Linked DNA regions of Homo sapiens. The protein of the gene in region 2 purifies or fractionates together with the protein of the main gene of each other region. This does not show direct contact. Each region holds a gene or a part of one and is shown on either strand. Other genes may lie near its edges.

Region 1 (3,706 bases), on a different chromosome or scaffold from region 2:
AACCAGCCTGGTCAACATAGTGAAACCCGTCTCTACTAAAAATACAAAAATTAGCCAGACGTGGTGGCAGGTGCCTGTAATCCCAGCTACTTGGGAGGCTGAGGCAGGAGAATCATTTGAACCTGGGAGGTGGAGATTGCAGTGAGCCGAGATTGTGCCACTGCACTCCAACCTGGGTGACAAGAGTGAAACTTCGTCTCAAAAAAAAAAAAAAAAGGAAATGCAGAGGTGTTGCCTTTGTCTGACTGAGTTGCAGGTTTCCCCTTGCCCTTCGAACAATTTGTGTCTACGCAACCCCTCTGGGATTCCAGCTCTTTTAAGTCAGCTTGTCCACGTTAACCAAGGTCCGGAGATTGACAGCACGGAAGGAGCACAGTGATCTTCCATCGAGTCAATGTTTCCAAGAACTGTGAGCTCAGGAAAAGATGAAGAGTGATAATAAAGAAGACTGTTCAACTAGACTTCACACCTTGTTTGGACATCAACCTATAACTTCAAATACAGACACACATGGGTAGTTTCTGCTTACCTCAACGAAGGCTGCCAGTACAGCCAAACCATCCGGCGCATCTTGGGCTATATCATAGCTCTTGTATTTAGAATTGTAGTGAACAATGTGAATCTGTAAGAGCAAGGTAGAGTGGGTCAAGGGCAGTTCATAGAAATTCAAATGCTTAAGATTTCCAGGGAAGGAGGAAGAGAAAGAAAGGTGCTCCGTCTGAGGCCTCAGACTGTTCCACACAAGCAACTTGGACCTCCATCTCTCTCCATCTGGGCTGCAATTCCTATCTATCAAGAGCAGAAACTTCCCCAAGAATGGAAAGAGCAAGAGTGGGATTCTGGAAGATGGCAGTTCGAGGCCATTTCCCGACCACACCTCCCTCCAGGCAGACAAGCTGGCAGAGTCTGAAGGGATCACATGAGGACAGTGGGTTCTCCTGGAGTGTCTGGGGGCTTTGCAGGGAGAGTGAGCTTGCGCCCCTTGTCCCAGGCAACCATTGTTAACATGTAGTCATCCTATGGATGGATTCTGGCAAAAGAGGTAACTCAGAAAATCTAACACAGTCCAGGCACAGTGGCTCATGCCTGTAATCCCAGCACTTTGGGAGGCCGAGGCGGGTGGATCACTTGAGGTCAGGAGTTTGAGACCAGCCTGACCAACATGGCGAAACCCCGTCTCTACTAAAAGTACAAAAATTAGCCGGCCATGGTGGCAGGTGCCTGTAATCCCAGCTTCTCGGGTGGGTGAGGCAGGAGAATCATTTGAACCCAGGGAACGGAGGTTGCAGTGAGCCAAGATCATGCCACTTCACTCCAGCCTGGGCAAAAGAGCAAAACTCTGTCTCAAGAAACAAAAAAAAAGAAAATCTAACACATAGAAATCCAGCTGAAACAAAGGAGGGCTTGCCACACCCTGTGGGCTGTGAAGTCCTGCCAACCTGAGTCCTGTGAGGGCAGGACCTTGCCTGAACCCCTGTCACAAAGTGGTGATCTGTCAATAGTTGCTGAGTGAATAAAAAATAAACTCAACTTCAGCATGACTTAACTGCTACCATCGCACAGTCTTTTGGCTGTTTTTGTTTGTTTGTTTTGTTGCTCAGACTGGAGTGCAGCGGCATGATCAGGACTTACTGCAGCCTCAGCCTGCTGGCCTCAAGCGATCCTCCCACCTCAGCCTCCTCAGAAGCTGGAACTATAGGCGTGTACCACCACTCCTGGCTAATTTTTTTTTTTTTTTTTTTTTTTGTAGACACAAGATCTCGCTACATTGCCCAGGCTGATCTACAACTCCTGGGCTCAAGCAATTCCCCTGCCTTGGCCTCCCAAAGTGATGGAATTACAGGCGTGAGCCAGTGCACCTGGCCTTGGCTATTTTAATAAGAAAAGTGACGGCTGGGCACTGTGGCTCACGCCTATAATCCCAGCACTTTGGGAGGCCAAGGCGGGTGGATCACCTGAAGTCAAGAGTTCGAGACCAGCCTGGCCAAAATGGTGAAATCCCGTCTCTACTAAAAATACAAAACTTAGTAGGGCATGGTGGCGGGTGCCTGTAATCCCATTTACTCGGGAGACTAAGGCAGGAGAATTGCTTGAACCCAGAAGGCGGAGGTTGCAGTGAGCTGAGATTGTGCCACTGCACTCCAGCCGGGGCAACAGAGCGAGACTCTGTCTCAAAATAAATAAATAAAAAGAAAAGTGACTATGGGGTTCAAAGGAAAGAGGACACAGTGGGGGTCCTCAGGTACCTCGATCACATGTCTGATCCCGTCCACGGTGTGCTCAGAGCCGCTGATCTCCGAGGACGCACCTCCCCAGTGAAAGTGCATCTGCTGGGCTATGTATACAGTGCCGTCAGCCACTGTCATGCGCATGGTGGAGGGCAGGCTGATCTGCACTGGAGAGACAAGGTGGGGCTGAGAGCAGAGTAGGTGAACACAGAGGGGTCAGGCCTACAGGCTGGGTAGCTTCTCTGCTCACCTCCCACCTGTCTGAGCCCAGGGCAAGCCAATACCATAGACTGGCTTAGAATGCCATGGGCAGGGTCACCAAAGGAGAAGAGGCGTTTGCGCACAGGGCACAGGGTGAGGTCAGGATGGAGGCCAGGCACTAAGTAAACCAGGCTGGGCAAGTGCCTCTCCCCAGCACGCTCCTTCCCGCCCAGAACCAACAGGCCAGAGGCAGGACCACACAGTGGCAGGTCCAGCTTGCTGGCCCCAGGGAAAGGGAAGGTCCTGAAAAATTATGGCCAATGGGCTTGGAAACTAGAATTCTACTCTCTATCTCTGGCCAAGTTTGGAATTTGCCGAAGGTATAAGAATAGGAAGTGGGGCCTCTTAGAACTGTTTTCTTTTCTTTGTTTTTTTTCATGCTCACTCTGTTGCTCAGGCTGGAGTGCAGTGGCACCACGATGACTTGCTGCAGCAACTCACTGCAGCCTCCAACTCCTGGCTTCAAGGGATCCTATCACCTCAGCCTCCCGAGTAGCTGGAACTACAGGTGCCCGCCACCATGCCTGGCTAATTTTTGTGTTTTTAGTAGAGACAGTGTTTCACCATATTGGTTACGCTGGTCTCGAACTCCTGACCTCAAGTGATCCACCTGCCTCAGCCTCCCAAAGTGTTGGGATTACAGGCATGAGCCACCACGCCCAGCTGAAATCTCTGCCTTTTGGAATGAACTACACAAAAAGAAAAAAACGGGCTCAGTTACTAAGAAAAGTGACTAAGAAAAATATCTATGAGGATATAATTTCGGCGTTGGAAAGGCAGCATGTGTCTCATGAGCAAGATCTTCCTATTTATTTATTTTGAGACAGAGTCTTACTCTGTCACCCAGGCTGGAGTGCAGTGGCATGATCTAGGCTCACTGCAACCTCCGCCTCCTGGGTTCAAGCAATTCTCCTGCCTCAGCCTCCCCAGTAGCTGGGATTACAGGCATATGCCACCATGCCCGGCTAATTTTTGTATTTTTAGTAGAGACAGGGTTTCACCATATTGGCCAGGCTGGTCTCGAACTCCTGACCTCAAGTGATCCAACCTCCTCAGCCTCCCAGAGTGCTGGGATTATAGGCGCGAGCCACTGCGCCTGGCAAGATCTTCCTATTTAAAGTCATCAATGGTGGCTGTAAACAAGAACATTTTCTTAAAAGATAGCAAATATGAGGTATTTAAAACCTGTCACGTGCCCCCTCTTTCTTTCCAAATTG
Region 2 (3,706 bases):
TGATGTACGCACTACAATTTATTTACCCATTCCTTTTTCTGATTGTTTCCAATTTTTCGCTATCGCTGAGAATGTTGTAGAAAACATTCACAGCATGCATCCTAGTGCGTGTGTGAGGTTTGTTTTTTCTTTTATAAGGAAGATATTGAGAAATGGAACAGCTGGATTCTACAGTATATGATCACATTTTAACAGACACTGCCAAGTTGTCCTCTAAAGGTGACAGTTCAATTTACTCTCCCGCCGAGGGTAAATTAGGAAAATACTTTTTTTCTCAGTCTTTCATCAGCCATGAATTCTTCTCTCCTAGAAATCACCTCTACTCAATAGTTTGGAGCCCACTGGTAATTTTCTTCCTGAAATGCCATCGCTTGCCCCCTTATGCCTCCAGTTCTCTCCTCCCTCTGCCCCTGCTCCTCCACAGGCTGCTCCTCTTAACACACCCTGCCCTCGGGGGGCTGTCTCATCATCCTGCCATCTCCAGTCCTGTCTTTCCTTGCTTCCTCCGCAGTCTTGCCTCCTGTGGTTCTAGCATTCGGCTTTACGCAGGTTGATTTTCTTAACTAATGTTTATTCTTACAATATGCCAGGCACAGCTCTGGGCTGGGACCCAGCAGAGAACAGAACCAGAAAAGAACTCCTGCCCCTTCCCTCCTCAAAGCATGCCTCCAAGTGGGGGAGAAGGGTAACAAGGTATACAGGTGAGTGCGTGCTGAGGTAGGTAATTACGAGCAAGAAGAAGAAATAAGGAGGGAAGGGAGATCAGGAAGAGGGAGGCAGAGGGAAGTGTTGACATTTTTGTTGGGATGCCCAAGGAAGGCCTGCCCATGAAGGTGACTTTTGAGGAATATCTTGAGACTGAGAGAATGAAGCTGAAGACCACGTAGGAAAGAGCGTTCCAGGCGGAGCGGCTGTGAAGCCCTGAGGTGGGAGCTGGCTAGGATCATTGAAGGACTGCAGGAGGTGGCTGTGGCTGCAGCAGCGGGCCAGGGAGAGGATAGGCAGAAGCAGGAGGGGGTGAGATGAGGGGGTGAGATCAGGGGGGCCATAAGGAGCCTAGAGGGCCATGTGAGCCTTTGGCTTCTCCCCTGAGTGAGCTGGGGGCCCCTGGAATGTTCTCAGGGGTAAAGGTCATGCTGTTTCATGTGATTCAGGTTTACCGGTATCAGCTGGCTGTGTTACTGAGAACAAACTGCAAGCAGATGAGGGTTGCAGGGAAGTCAGGAGGCCAGGGCAGTAATCCAGGCAGGAGATGATGGCGGGTGGACAAAAAATGCAGAGGGGGTAGTCAGGAGGCCTAAGAGGGATTAATTCTGGGCGTACTTTGAGGGCAGAGCTGACAAATTGTGTTGACAGACTAAACAGGGAGTGTAAGGGAAAGAGGAGTGAGAGGTGCCTGCAGGGTGTCTGGCCTGAGAAACTGCAAGATGGAGCTGCTGTGAGCAGTGGAGAGGGAAAGTGGGCAGAGCTGCTGGTGGGGGTGAGTGCTAGGGGTCTAGCTGGAAATTTGGGGCATACTAAGTCTGAGATGCCTACTCAACATGGCAGTGGCTACGAGAGGTCCTGATTAAAGACATAAATTTGGAAGTTCATCGCATATAAATGTCATTTAAAGTCATAGCTACTCCTGACTCAAATCTCCTGCCTTCATCTTTCTTCCAAACTCCAGAACGTAATTTCCAGCCACTGGCTTAATATTTCTTAATAGTTCATTCCACCCCACACCCTGCCATTTCTCCTTCTTAAATTTCTTCTTCCAAAATTGGACTCTTAAGGTACATCCCAGATCTCATCATCCTTTAGCTCAAGAACCTTCACTGGCTTCCTGTTGCCAAGGATGAGACAGGCTGGACTCTCCTGTTGCACATCCTCCTCCAACCAGACCCAATAGCCTGCTGCTCCCCAGAAGTGCCCAGGTTGCCTGCACCTCCCCTTCGCAATGAGCCTTCCTCAGGAACAATAAGAACTAACGCTTGCAGAGCCCTGACTGTGTGTACGCATGGAGTTAATTACTTTACATGCACTTGCTCATCAGAATCTCACATTGGTGAGGCAGGGATTCACATTCCTCTGTTACCAACAAGGAAACTGAGGCTCATAAAGGTAAAACCACTTGATTTTCACCTTGACTGCAAAGCTACTAAATGGTGGAGCCCAATTCAAACCATATGTGTTGACTTCAGAGCCCTTGTGCTTATCCTCTGCTCATGCCATCTCCCTGCCAGAAGTGCCAAAAATGTAGGCAGGAGATAAGTGACCAGGGAGAGGTGACAACTAAAGCTGACATGATTTGTGGACAAACTAGATGGGGAGTTTCCCCCCCAATACTGATAAGTTGTGTATTATAACAAAATGTTCATTTATGCATCCTGCTTTAATAAAATTTTTGGTATGTAAATGATCTAATGGAACTCCTACAATCATGCTGGTTGTGGCAGGAGCAAGGAACTTATGTCAGCAAAACAGCAGAGCAGACAGCTCCAAACTCCCATTCCTCTGCAGATACATAAAAAACAAAACAAAACCCAGAAACAGTCAGAACCAACATTGTCAAAACTCTGGAAAACAGTCAAAGGTCTACAGCAACCAAGTGAATACTGAATCAAAGAAAAGGCAACTTTAAAATGGTAGGAAAGCTTTGTGGCATGTTTGCCTGCCCTTGCCTCACCTTTTCTCTGACCTGGTGGCAGTCTTGAAGATAGCAGCCTGTGTTCCCAGTATGGGACTCTGGTTCTTGATTCCAGAGGGAGGTGTACCAACAGGGAGTAGGTCACAAGGACCACATGCTTCAAAGGGCAATAAAGATCACAGGGCAAGGCAAAATTAGGATTACTGATGAGAGTCTATGTCCCGCTGTGCACTCATTGTCTTGATAAGCATCTTAACAGGAAACAGGGTTCGAGAGCAGACAACCGGTCTGACTAGAATTTACCAGGCTGGAATTTCTCAATCCTAGTAAGCCTGAGGGTACTGCAAGAGACCAGGGCGTATTTCAGTCCTTATCTCAACCGCATAAGACAGATACTCCTAGAGCAGCCATCTATAGACCTACCCCCTGGAATGCATTCCTTTCCCAGGTTCTCAATTATTAATATTCCTTGCTGGGAAAAGAATTCAGCGATATTTCTCCTACTCACACGTCTGTCTACAGGCTTTCTGCAAGAAGAAAAATACGGCTGTATTCTGCCCGACCCCGCAGGCAGACCTCCTGTTTATCTTCCCTCATTCCCTGAAAATCACTGTTATTCTGTTCTTTTTCAGGGTGCACTGATTTCATATTGTTCAAACACACATATTTTACAATCAATTTGTAAAATAGTGGTCCTGAGGTGACGTACATTCTCAGTTTATGAAGATAACAGGATTAAGAGATTAAAGTAAAGACAGGCATAAGAAATTATAAGAGTATTGATTGGGGAAGTGATAAATGTCCATGAAATCTTCACAATTTATTTTCAGAGACTGCAGTAAAGACAGGTGTAAGAAATTATAAAAGTATTAATTTTGGGAACTGATAAATGTCCATGACATCTTCACAATTTATGTTCTTCTGCCTCAGCTCCAGCTGGTCCCTCTGTTCAGGGTCTCTGACTTCCTGCAACAACCCAGTCTGAGGAGTAGAAAGGAAAAAGAATGAAGAAAAATGAACAGCCCTGGAGACCTGTGGGATGCCCTCAAGTATAACAACATATACCTAGTGAAAGTC

The links. The genes of interacting proteins can lie anywhere in the genome.
Region 1: the proteins of C10orf53 (region 2) and CA6 purify together in Homo sapiens (affinity purification with mass spectrometry; one large-scale study listed by BioGRID and IntAct). This does not show direct contact.

What each region holds. Positions count from the first base shown.
Region 1 is NC_000001.11:8,955,826-8,959,531, reverse strand, and holds part of CA6 (carbonic anhydrase 6 isoform 1 precursor), read right to left. Parts: intron 2,396-3,706; coding exon 2,247-2,395; intron 623-2,246; coding exon 530-622; intron 1-529. UniProt on the Homo sapiens protein: Reversible hydration of carbon dioxide. Its role in saliva is unknown.
Region 2 is NC_000010.11:49,685,950-49,689,655, reverse strand, and holds part of C10orf53 (UPF0728 protein C10orf53), read right to left. Parts: intron 1-3,706.